2 separate regions of the Homo sapiens genome follow, and region 1 is linked to region 2. Evidence: fine-mapped expression QTL. Tissue or cell type: whole blood. Region 2 holds a variant in brackets; the other region holds the start of a gene. All regions are shown on one strand. Distances are between the middles of the regions.

Region 1 (4,928 bases), 50 kb after region 2:
GAAAGCCAAAGAGACAGGATGAGGGTGAGTGGTGGCATAGGTGGACGAAAAGTAACACCCCTGCCCCCGGGGCAGACAGGACCCATAGGGAAGAGTGGGCCTGGAGGTTTCGGGCTAGAGGTGGAGGAAGTCTGGGAGAGGGAATCTGAGAATGAGAGAGGCACAGGGGAGGTCGCAGGGCAAGGGGTGGGGGAAGGCAGCAGCAAGGGGCTCCAGATTGCTTACTTACCTGCAGGGTTGTAGACTGGGGGCCCAGCTGGGTAGAGTGGATATTGGGGAGCAGGACCACTAGGTGGGTATATGAAGCCAGGCTGTGGGGGTGCAGGGCCAGCTTTGGGGTCCTGGGGGTATGGGTATACTGGCTGCACTGGGATGCCTGTCATTGGAATCTCCTGGCCTAGATGGGGGAGAAGGATCAGCATTCAGAGACCCATCTCCTATGGGAAGCCTCCTCCTCCTGCCCAGGAAACCAAGGTAAGCACCCTGGTGCTGGCCTCTGGCAAGCTCCAGGCTGGCCATCTTTGCCTCCCACACCCTGCTTGGCAGAGTTAAGCAGGGAGCTGTGCACGTGGCCCCAGCTGGTCAATCTGTGTTGAGCAAGTTTGCTCCCCTCAGCAGGTTTCAGAGACCTCATGAACCAGGGAGCACAGCCCAGGGAATATCTCACTTGGGCAAGAAGGGGACAGCTCAGGGCTGGTATCCTGTAATCCAGCAGAGCTGCCACTAAGAGGGTCTTCTCCTAGCCCTTCCCTCCCACACTGATCTCCCGTATGGCATCACTGTCCCCATGTCCATCAGGTTGTGGCATATGTGCATCACATGCCAACACTCAGGCACATATTTTGCCATCCACTGGAGCACACTCAATTAATGTTCATCACTACAGACCTGACCCCGTGTACTTACTAAGAGTCATATGTATGCATACACCCACTGCACCCACTATTGTTGACAGACTGCACTCCTGTACACATTTGAATCTTCATGTGTATGCACAGAAATGCACACAAAGTCTGATGTTCCATATATCCCAGGCACATTCTAATATTCACGGGTTTACAAGCATTTTTCTGGGTTTTCATGCTGGCAGGTGTGTGTATACAGAAGCACATACTACTACAGAATTTACCCAATCCATGAACTCTCTGCTGCCCATTATTGGACTTAGCCCAGCCCATCTGAGGCCCTTCTTGCCCAGTACTGGGTGTACCTTCAAATGGGCTCTGGAGCTGCTGGCGCCGGCGGTACAGGTAGCAACAGGAACAGAGGAAGCAGCAGATGGTGGTGGCAACCACAGCAACAAAGAGGATCACAGCTGAGGCGATGCCTGCTATGGTCTTGGGGCTTTAGACAAAGAACAGGTCCTCTCACCTTCCAACACTCATAGGACGGAGTCCTCATTATGCTGGCTCCAACTCCTGGCCAGCAGGGGGGCCATGGCATGCTGAGATTTGGGGTTCCTTGTGGGGCTCTGCCCAGTCCCTGTGAAGGAGATCTTAGAGGACCTCCACTTCCCAGAAGGCTATGCTGCCTGGCTGGCTAGTGTGAAGCATACGGGGATTTGCAGTGCGCCCCCAACCATTGCTTTTATATCTACAACTTAAATGATTAGACATACAGCATAACACTGAAAGGAGCCTTAGAAATAATCTAGAGCCATTTTTTCCAAACCCCGCTTCAATCAGAAGTCTCTATATCTATTTTATATATGATATATTAAAAAAAAGTTTGACAACCACTAATTTGGCAAGCAATGACCCATAGAAGGCAAGTGTCTTCTCCAAGATCACACAGCTAGTAAGAAGTGGACCTGGGAATCAAACCCAAGTCTCCTGCCTTTGTGCCAGAGCTTCTTCCACAAAGCTACACTGTCGTCCGGGTGTTAACCTTGAACCCTCCCTCCCCATGACCTGGCAGGACCAAAGGGAGGGCTCCAGAAAGAACCTGGAAACCCCGGGCCCAGTCAAAGCCTATGAAGGTAACTAACATGCCTTTTCTGGAACTCCCAGGCACCAGCACCTAAGCACCTAGCTCTGCCGCCAGGCTTGAGTCCTGGTGACTCTATTCAGCTAAGAATGTGGAGGTCGACAACGGAGGAGGCAGGAGTCCGGGAGGGAGGAAGAGGAGGCCTCTGGAGAAAAGGATAGAGGAGGTGGTGAGGGTGAGGAGGCAGGAACCCACCTGAAGGCCAGGCAGTGCTTCTGCTGCCTCTCGGTGATAAGCAAGGTCAGGTCCCTGCAGCAGTACCGATGGTAGCAGGTCCCGCAGCAGAAGGTGAAGAACTCGCAGTTAAACCCCGGATGCCAGGAGCCATTCCGGTCCAGGTACCACAGGCAGTCCTCGCCGGCCAGCACTGCGGGCAGGGATTGGGGGTGCCCAGTGGCCACCAGGCCAGTTCATCCCCAGCCGCGCTCGGCCCCACTCCCCCGGCGGTCCCCAGCCTGACGGCTCCCGAACACTGAGGGTTGCCCCTTGTCTCCACCCTGAGGGTCTCAGCCCCAGAGCCCCCGAGGCCTCTGCCTGAAGCTGACCCTGCACCCCGGGATCAGCCTCCCATGGCCCAGCATCCTGGAGCTCCCTCTTCCCGCTTCTTGAGGACCCAGCAACACCCAAGGCTCCCGTGGCAGCCGGAGGGTCTCGGAGAAGCCCCGAGCCCAAGCCCCTCGGATCGGTCCCTCCCCTTCCTCCGCCCCCATCCCACTCCTGCCGCATCTCTCCCCATCCCCTTACCCAGGGGAGCCCCCAGCACCAACAGAGCGATTGCGGTGAGCGGCGCGGCCCGGCGGAGCCCCGCGGGTGGCATGGTGGGGGCTGGGCGCGGCCGGGGTCGGGCCTCCCAGAGAAGGGACCGCAGGACCAAGCCGGCCAGCTGGAGCTGCGGCGGGGCCCAGCCCGCGGCCAGGCTCGGGCTCCTCTTCCGCCTCCTCTGGGGGTGGGACTAAGCGCCCCGCCCGCGCTAACCCAGCCGGCGCGGCTCCGCGCAGCGCCCAGGAGTCCACCCACCAGCGACGCCCACCTAGCCTCTGGAGCTGGGTGCCCCTCACCCAGCAGAGCACTGCCCTGCTCCCCCTGTCCCCGGCTCCGCGGTGGTTCCTCCCATCCGAGCCACCATGGGCACTGCGGGCAGTTGGGCACTGCGGCCAGGGAAGCCTGGCTGTGTCCTGGACCCGCCCCCGGCCTGGGCCCAATCACTATGCTGGACTCCAGAAGCCCTGATCCTGGTGCCACCTCCGAATGCCCAGACACATGGGCCAACCCTGGAGGAGCAGGGCTGGACCTTCACTTGTGGGGGACCTCCTCTGCCGCGTCCAGCCTGGGACATCCTGTCGGGGGCGGAGAGGGAAAGAGGCTGGATGTCACCCCGCCCCCATTCCCAGAACACAAGCACTCATTGAGAGGCATTCAGAGTGGCTTTGTCCCCAGCGGTGCCCACAGGCCTGAACCCTGCCAGCTGCACTGGCTCCCTACGATGGACCCTTCCCCCTTCAAGTGGACAGAGCTGGCATGCACCAGCCCATGGCCTCACTAGCAGGGAAGGCAGGCTGCTGGGGCCACCTGGGGCCCATCCAGTTAAACACTCTTCACAGTGAAAGCCCTTCACAGAGCAAGCCTGTACTGCAATAGCCACCGGAGCATAGGGAGGGCAACAGTTAATTTCAGGTGGGCAACAGTTAATTCCAGGTGGAGACAGTGTTTTAGGATGGGAGAGGTCAGTCTTCACAGGTTTATACTGAGTGCCAGTGACTATGCCCCATGCTACATGAGGTACCCTCCGAGGAACTGCAAATTAAGCCAGGGAGATCATCAAAAGCCTACCTTAATCCCCTGCCATGTACACCCTTTCACACACTTCTGGGCTTCCACATCTACCTCACTGGAATCTTTCCACAACTCCATGAACTAAGCAAGGTTCATCAGTGTTATCAATCGCATTTCACAGACTGAGAAACTAGGACTCATGGAGGTTAAAGAACTTGTTCAAGGTAATACAGCCAGTAAATGGTAGAGGCATCAGGAAGACCCAAATCTAAATCAGGGTTGATCCCCAGCCGCAACAGCAGACAGTGTAGACAGTGAGTATTTCTTGTGTTCTGGGGTGAGAGAATCAGGACAGGTCCATGGAAGGCCCAGTAGAATCTTAGTAGGTTAGGGAAGGACAGCCGAAAGAGGAGCTACCCCATCCTGGGCCCCTGTGGGTGCTGGCACACCTACCCAAGAGAGCTGGAATAGGAGAGGATAGGCTCCTGCCCCAGAAAGTTGCTGGTAGCCTGATGGGCAAGAGTATGTCCTCACGCAGGACACAGTCATAAATGCAGCAGCAGGGACAAAGAGAAACGCCTCTGAATCCAGCACCACCTACTCAGTGTGCCCATTGCCATCCATCTCCTCTTTCCTACACTAAAAGCTCCATGACTGCAGGGACCACGTGGCTGTGTTCAATGTGGCCATCCAGCCCTAGCCATCAGTGTTGTCATTGTTGGTTGAATCATCTTCAGATAAGGGACTGTCTTTCCTGCCCAGAGCTGAATCTCCCATGTGTACCCTTGACCCCTGCTGATTTGTCTCTTCATTATCCCATCTCTTTAGTGTCTTTAGCTTCTCACACCTTACCAGCTTCTTTTCCCTAGGAAATCTCAAGTCTCTCCTATTTAAAGCAAAGCAAAGCAAAGCAAACCAAACCAAACCACATCCTTCCTAAAACTCATCCCTCTCTAGCTACTTTCCTGCTTTTTTCTCCAACTAGCCTTCCTCAAAGTGTATACCCCTAGTTGACACGCCCTCCTCAAAGTGTATACCCCTAGTTGACACTTCCAGCTTGCAATGACACCTAGCACGCACCAACATCATCAGTGATTTTCTAATTGCAAAATTCTAAGAATGTGTTTCAGTTCATGGGATGGGAGGTGACTAGACTAGGACAGAGAGTG
Region 2 (4,928 bases):
AGAGGTAAACTCGAGAAGCAAACCCGAAGCAACCTACTAATAGCGGCTGCTGGGCCTGAGCCCTCCTGACCTTCCACTCCCACTGCCTGCACAGCCTCAGCAGCCCCCTCCCCCATCGGTTCTAGTTCACAGCTCAGTGTCCATGGTATCTCTACGGGGCCGGGAAGGCCCGAGGCCGGCGGCCTAACCCTCAGAATGCCCTTTGCAGAGGGTTGGGACCTATCAGGAGTGCACTGAGCAGCACGGCTCAATGCTTAAGGAGATTAACCCCAACTGGTACACACCCAAAATAGCCCTGGAGGCTAGGGTGAAGAGGGCAGAAGAGGTGACGGGGGCCTGTTGACCCAGGGAGGCAAAAGCAGGCACCGGAGAGGGTTAGACTGTTAAAATCTCGCCCTGAAATTTGAAACTGCCTCCATCCAGAGTTTGAAAAAGCAACTGCTTGTTTCTTAAACTAGGTGGTACAATCCACAGGTGTTTGTTTTAAATATTGTTATTATACGTTTTCTTCTGTATGTATATAATATTTAAAGAATTTTGAGGGCAGGTGTGATGGCTAATACCTGTAATCTCAGCACTTTGGGAGGCTGAGACAGGAGGATCACTTGAGTTCAGGAGCTCGAGACTAGCCTGGGCAACATAGCAAGACCCCATCTCTAAAAAATTAAAAATTAAATTAAAAAAAAAGAATTTTACCAGCCTGGCCAACATGGGGAAACCCCATCTCTACTAATAATACAAAAAAAAAAATGGCCAGGCACGGTGGCTCACACCTGTAATCCCAGCACTTTGGGAGGCCAAGGCGGGTGGATCACCTGAGGCTGGGAGTTCAAGACCAGCCTGACCAACATGGAGAAACCCCTTCTCTATTAAAATACAAAATTAGCCAGGCATAGCGGCACATGTCTGTAATCCCAGCTACTAGGGAGGCTGAGGCAGGAGGATTGCTTGAACCCGGGAGGCGGAGGTTACGGTGCGCCGAGATCGTGCCATTGCACTCCAGCCTGGGCAACAAGAGCAGAATTCCGTCTCAAAAAAAAAAAAAAAAATGCTGGGCGTGGTGGTGCATGCCTGTAGTCCAGCTACTTGGGAGGCTGAGGCAGGAGAATCACTTGACCCGGGAGGCGGAGGTTGCAGTGAGCTGAGATCGAGCCACTGCTCTCCAGCCTGGCTGACAGAGCAAGACTCCATCTCAAAAAAAAAAAAAAAAGACTTTGAGCAAGTGAGGCATTAGTGCCTGCTCCCACCCTCAGTGCTGCCCTCTGGGTGCCTGCCTTCTCCTTACTGGGACAGTAGGTATAAGAGCTTGGTTAGGCCGGGTGCCGTGGTTCATGCCTGTAATCCCAGTGCTTGGGGAGGCCGAGGCGGGTGGATCACGAGATCAAGAGATCGAGACCAGCCTGGCCAACATGGTAAAACCCCATCTCTACTAAAAATACAAAAATTAACTGGGTGTGGTGGCGCATGCCTGTAGTCCCAGCTGCTCGGGAGGCTGAGGCAGGAGAATCCCTTGAACCCAGGAGATGGAGGTTGCAGTGAGCCGAGATCGTGCCGCTGTACTCCAGCCTGGCAACAGAGCAAGACTCCATCTCAAAAAAAAAAAAAAAAAAAAAAGAGCTTGGCTGGATGGAAAATGCAAGAGGGAGGCAGGACAGATGGACAGGACCAAGGAGCACTTGTAAAATAAGATGGCTCACCAGTGAGAGCGGGATATAGATGGTTAAGAGGTGGGGTCTGAGTCCCACTAACCAAGGGGAGGTTGCTCCCAGCATCAGAGAAGGCTGGAGGCTTCAGGGATTCTGGGAGCTTCATGGTCCCCAGGCTGGGACAAGAAGGTGAGGACAAAGCCCCGGTCTTATCTGTCTATCCTCCTTCAGTCTCTCTTTCTCTCCCCCAGGAGACTTTAGAGTATCTTTGTCAGACCGTGTCAGCATATCTACAGCTGGGCCCAGAGTGTGCAGAGCCTGAATGAAGCACACCAAGAGATAGGCAGTCTACACACATGTGTATACACACACACACACACACACACACACAGCAGGAGCAGAGGAACAACACACAGCGCCATGCATGGGGGACAGGAGTGGCGACGCTAATATTTACATGCCTGCCAAGTTGGATAAACAGGAATATCCTGAGCCATAGAATGCAGGCCTTTCCAGATCAGGCCCTTCCTTATTTATTGGACCACTTTTGTTTAACCAGCAAAAGAGCAGTGGTCTCCATTCGGTTCATCAGTTCTCCCAATGGCTTGTTAGTGTCTGGGCAGTGCGGTGAGACAGAAAGCCCAGGGGTGTCTGGAATCAGATAGGTCCAGGTTTGAATTCT[G/A]CTCCTGCCCCTTACTGATCCAGTGACTTGGAATAAGTTACCCAAGGAAGAAAGAACATTAACTTGATTGAGTGCCTTCTGGAGCCAAAGGCTTTATCGATGCTATCTCATTAACATAGCTTCTTGAGGCCCAATTACTTCACCTGTCAAGTGGGGATGATAAAATCATCCTTGAAGGGTTATAGTGAAGATTAAATAGGATGAGGCATTGAAAGTGTTTGGCACATCACGAGAGACCTTCTTTCCTCACTCTAAACTCTTCAGAGTTTGTACCTGTATATCTGCCAAATCAACATTATTTTATCTCTCACGAAATTAAAAAAAAAAAAAACCATCAGTGAGTGTGAAGGAATGATGAAGAGAGAGGGGAAGGGGAGGAAGGAAAGCAGGGAGGCAGGGCTTATGTAATTACTCGCTGCCTGGCCCCAGCAGCCTGATTTCTTTGAGCCTCTGCCTAATTTATTTTATGTCACAGGCTCAGGGGCCCAAACTGAGTTGCTGGGTTGGAAAAAGACAGAGTGAAAGGAGATTAGGAGAAGATTTTGAGGTGGATTCTCCTTGTCTGCAGGCTTCCACCCCAGCACAAGCTCAGAAAAGCCAAGGCTGCTTTGGGAGAACTTGGCTTCAGCTGTCCCTGGGGCCCACTGCAGAAAGAACAAGCCGGGTTGTCGGGATGCTGTTTACAAACAGCTAGGAATAGAAGCACCTCCTGTTCCCACACCCTTCCACCACCCTTTCATGGACAGCCCACAGGCTCCTTCTGATTGTTACTTCAATAGGCCTTCCTTTGAGATCAAGCCGGCAGGGCTGGCAGGACCCCTGTCCCTGAGACTGGCAGGTGAAAGGTGCTACATCCTCAGGCAGAAATTCCCAGGGAAGCTCTGAGTGCAGACTATATGAGTCTAGTGGTTAGAATAGTCTCCTCAGGGGCCAGCTAGACCTGGGTGCAGATCCAGCTCTGCTGGTTGCTGGCTGAATGACCCAAACAAGTGACTTCACGTCTTGGAGCCTGAGTTTCCTCACCTATAAAATGGAAATTACGGCCGGGCGCGGTGTCTCATGCCTGTAATCCCAGCACTTTGGGAGGCCGAGGCGGGCAGATCACCTGAGGTGGGGAGTTTGAGACCAGCCTGACTACCATAGAGAAACCCCGTCTCTACTAAAAATACAAAATTAGCCGGGCGTGGTGGCACGTGCCTGTAATCCCAGCTACTCGGGAGGCTGAGGCAGGAGAATTGCCTGAACCCAGGAGGCAGAGGTTGTGGTGAGCTGAGATGGTGCCATTGCACTCCAGCCTCGGCAACAAGAGCGAAACTCCATCTCAAAAAAAAAAAAAAAGGAAATTACAATGCTTAGTCATAGGATAGTTATGAGGTTTCAGCAAAATAATCCACATAAAGCACTAAGCAGAGTGCTGGGTTGGAAACCTAGTAGTAAAGGCCCATGAACATTAGTTTCCTCCCTTCCCTTCACTCCTATCCGCTCCTCCCATTCCCATTCTCTTCATTCGTTTTATACACAGAATTCATGAATCATGCTTTATGTTTACAAGGAGGGAGGAGGACTCCATTAAATCATTAATTTGCCAGCTCTTTAATGAGTTCCTATTATGTACTTTCTAAATGCCAGGATAGAGTAGTGAACAAGAGAGACAAGGTTCTTGCCCTCATAGAGGTTACAGTCTATGTTTGTTTGTTTGTTTTTGAGACAGGATCTCACTCTGTTCCCCAGGATGGAGTGCAGTAGCATGATCTTGGCTCACTGCAACTTCCATCTCATGGGCTCAAGCAATCCTCCCGCCTCAGCCCCCAGAGTAGCTGGGACTACAGTTGTGCACCACCATGCCCAGCTAATTTTTTTGTATTTTTAGTAGAGATGGGGTTTCACCATGTTGCCCAGGCTGGTGTCGAACTCCTGGGCTCAAATGATCTGCCCACCTCAATCTCCCAAAGTGCTGAGATTACGGGCATGAGCCACTGTGTTTTTTGTTTTTTTGTTTTTGTTTTTTTTTGTTTGTTTGTTTGAGACAGGATCTTACTCTGTTGCCCAGGCTGGAGTAGAGTAGTGCAATCTCAGTTCATTGCAGCTTCAAACTCCTGAGCTCAAGGGATCCTCCTGCCTCAGCCTCCCAAGTAGTTAGGACTACAGGTGTGTCCCACCGCGCCCAGATAATTTTTAAATTATTTGTAGATACTGGGGTCTCCCTATGTTGCCAAGGCTGGTCTTGAACTCCTGGGCTCAAGTGAGCCTCCTGCCTTGGCCTCCCAAGTGCTGGGATACGGGCATGAGCCACCACACCTGGCCAAGGTTACATTTTAATGGGTGAGACAGACAATATATATATTTCCATATGCAGATCATATGTAGCATGCATACACATAACATGTAACATATGACATATATCTTCTAAAAAAGAGTAATGTCAGTTAAGGGAAGAGTATATGACATATCAATGGGAGACCACTTCCAACAAAGTAGTCAGGGTCTTCACTACCAAAAGAGGTGACATTTGAGCAGATTCTTTTTTTTTGAGACAGAGTCTCACTCTGTTGCCCAGTCTGGAATGCAGTGGCGCAATCTTGGCTCACTGCAACCTCTGC

What was found. PIP is the estimated chance that this variant, and not a neighbour inherited with it, causes the effect.
Region 1: SHISA4 starts here. The variant in region 2 is fine-mapped to the expression of SHISA4 in whole blood (TOPMed, PIP 0.96).

What each region holds. Positions count from the first base shown.
Region 1 is chr1:201,886,870-201,891,797 of GRCh38, reverse strand. It overlaps SHISA4 (shisa family member 4), which reads right to left and starts at 2,900. Exons shown (of 5, transcript NM_198149.3): 1 at 2,731-2,900; 2 at 2,182-2,353; 3 at 1,211-1,344; 4 at 230-397. The coding sequence starts at 2,803. RefSeq lists enhancers at 2,763-3,057, 2,898-3,407.
Region 2 is chr1:201,936,870-201,941,797 of GRCh38, reverse strand. The region is part of intron 1 of LMOD1 (leiomodin 1); the gene reads left to right. Among named protein-coding and RNA genes, the nearest start is that of LMOD1, 7.2 kb to the left of the region's middle. RefSeq lists an enhancer at 1-347. The variant G/A (reference allele first, on the strand shown) is at 2,329.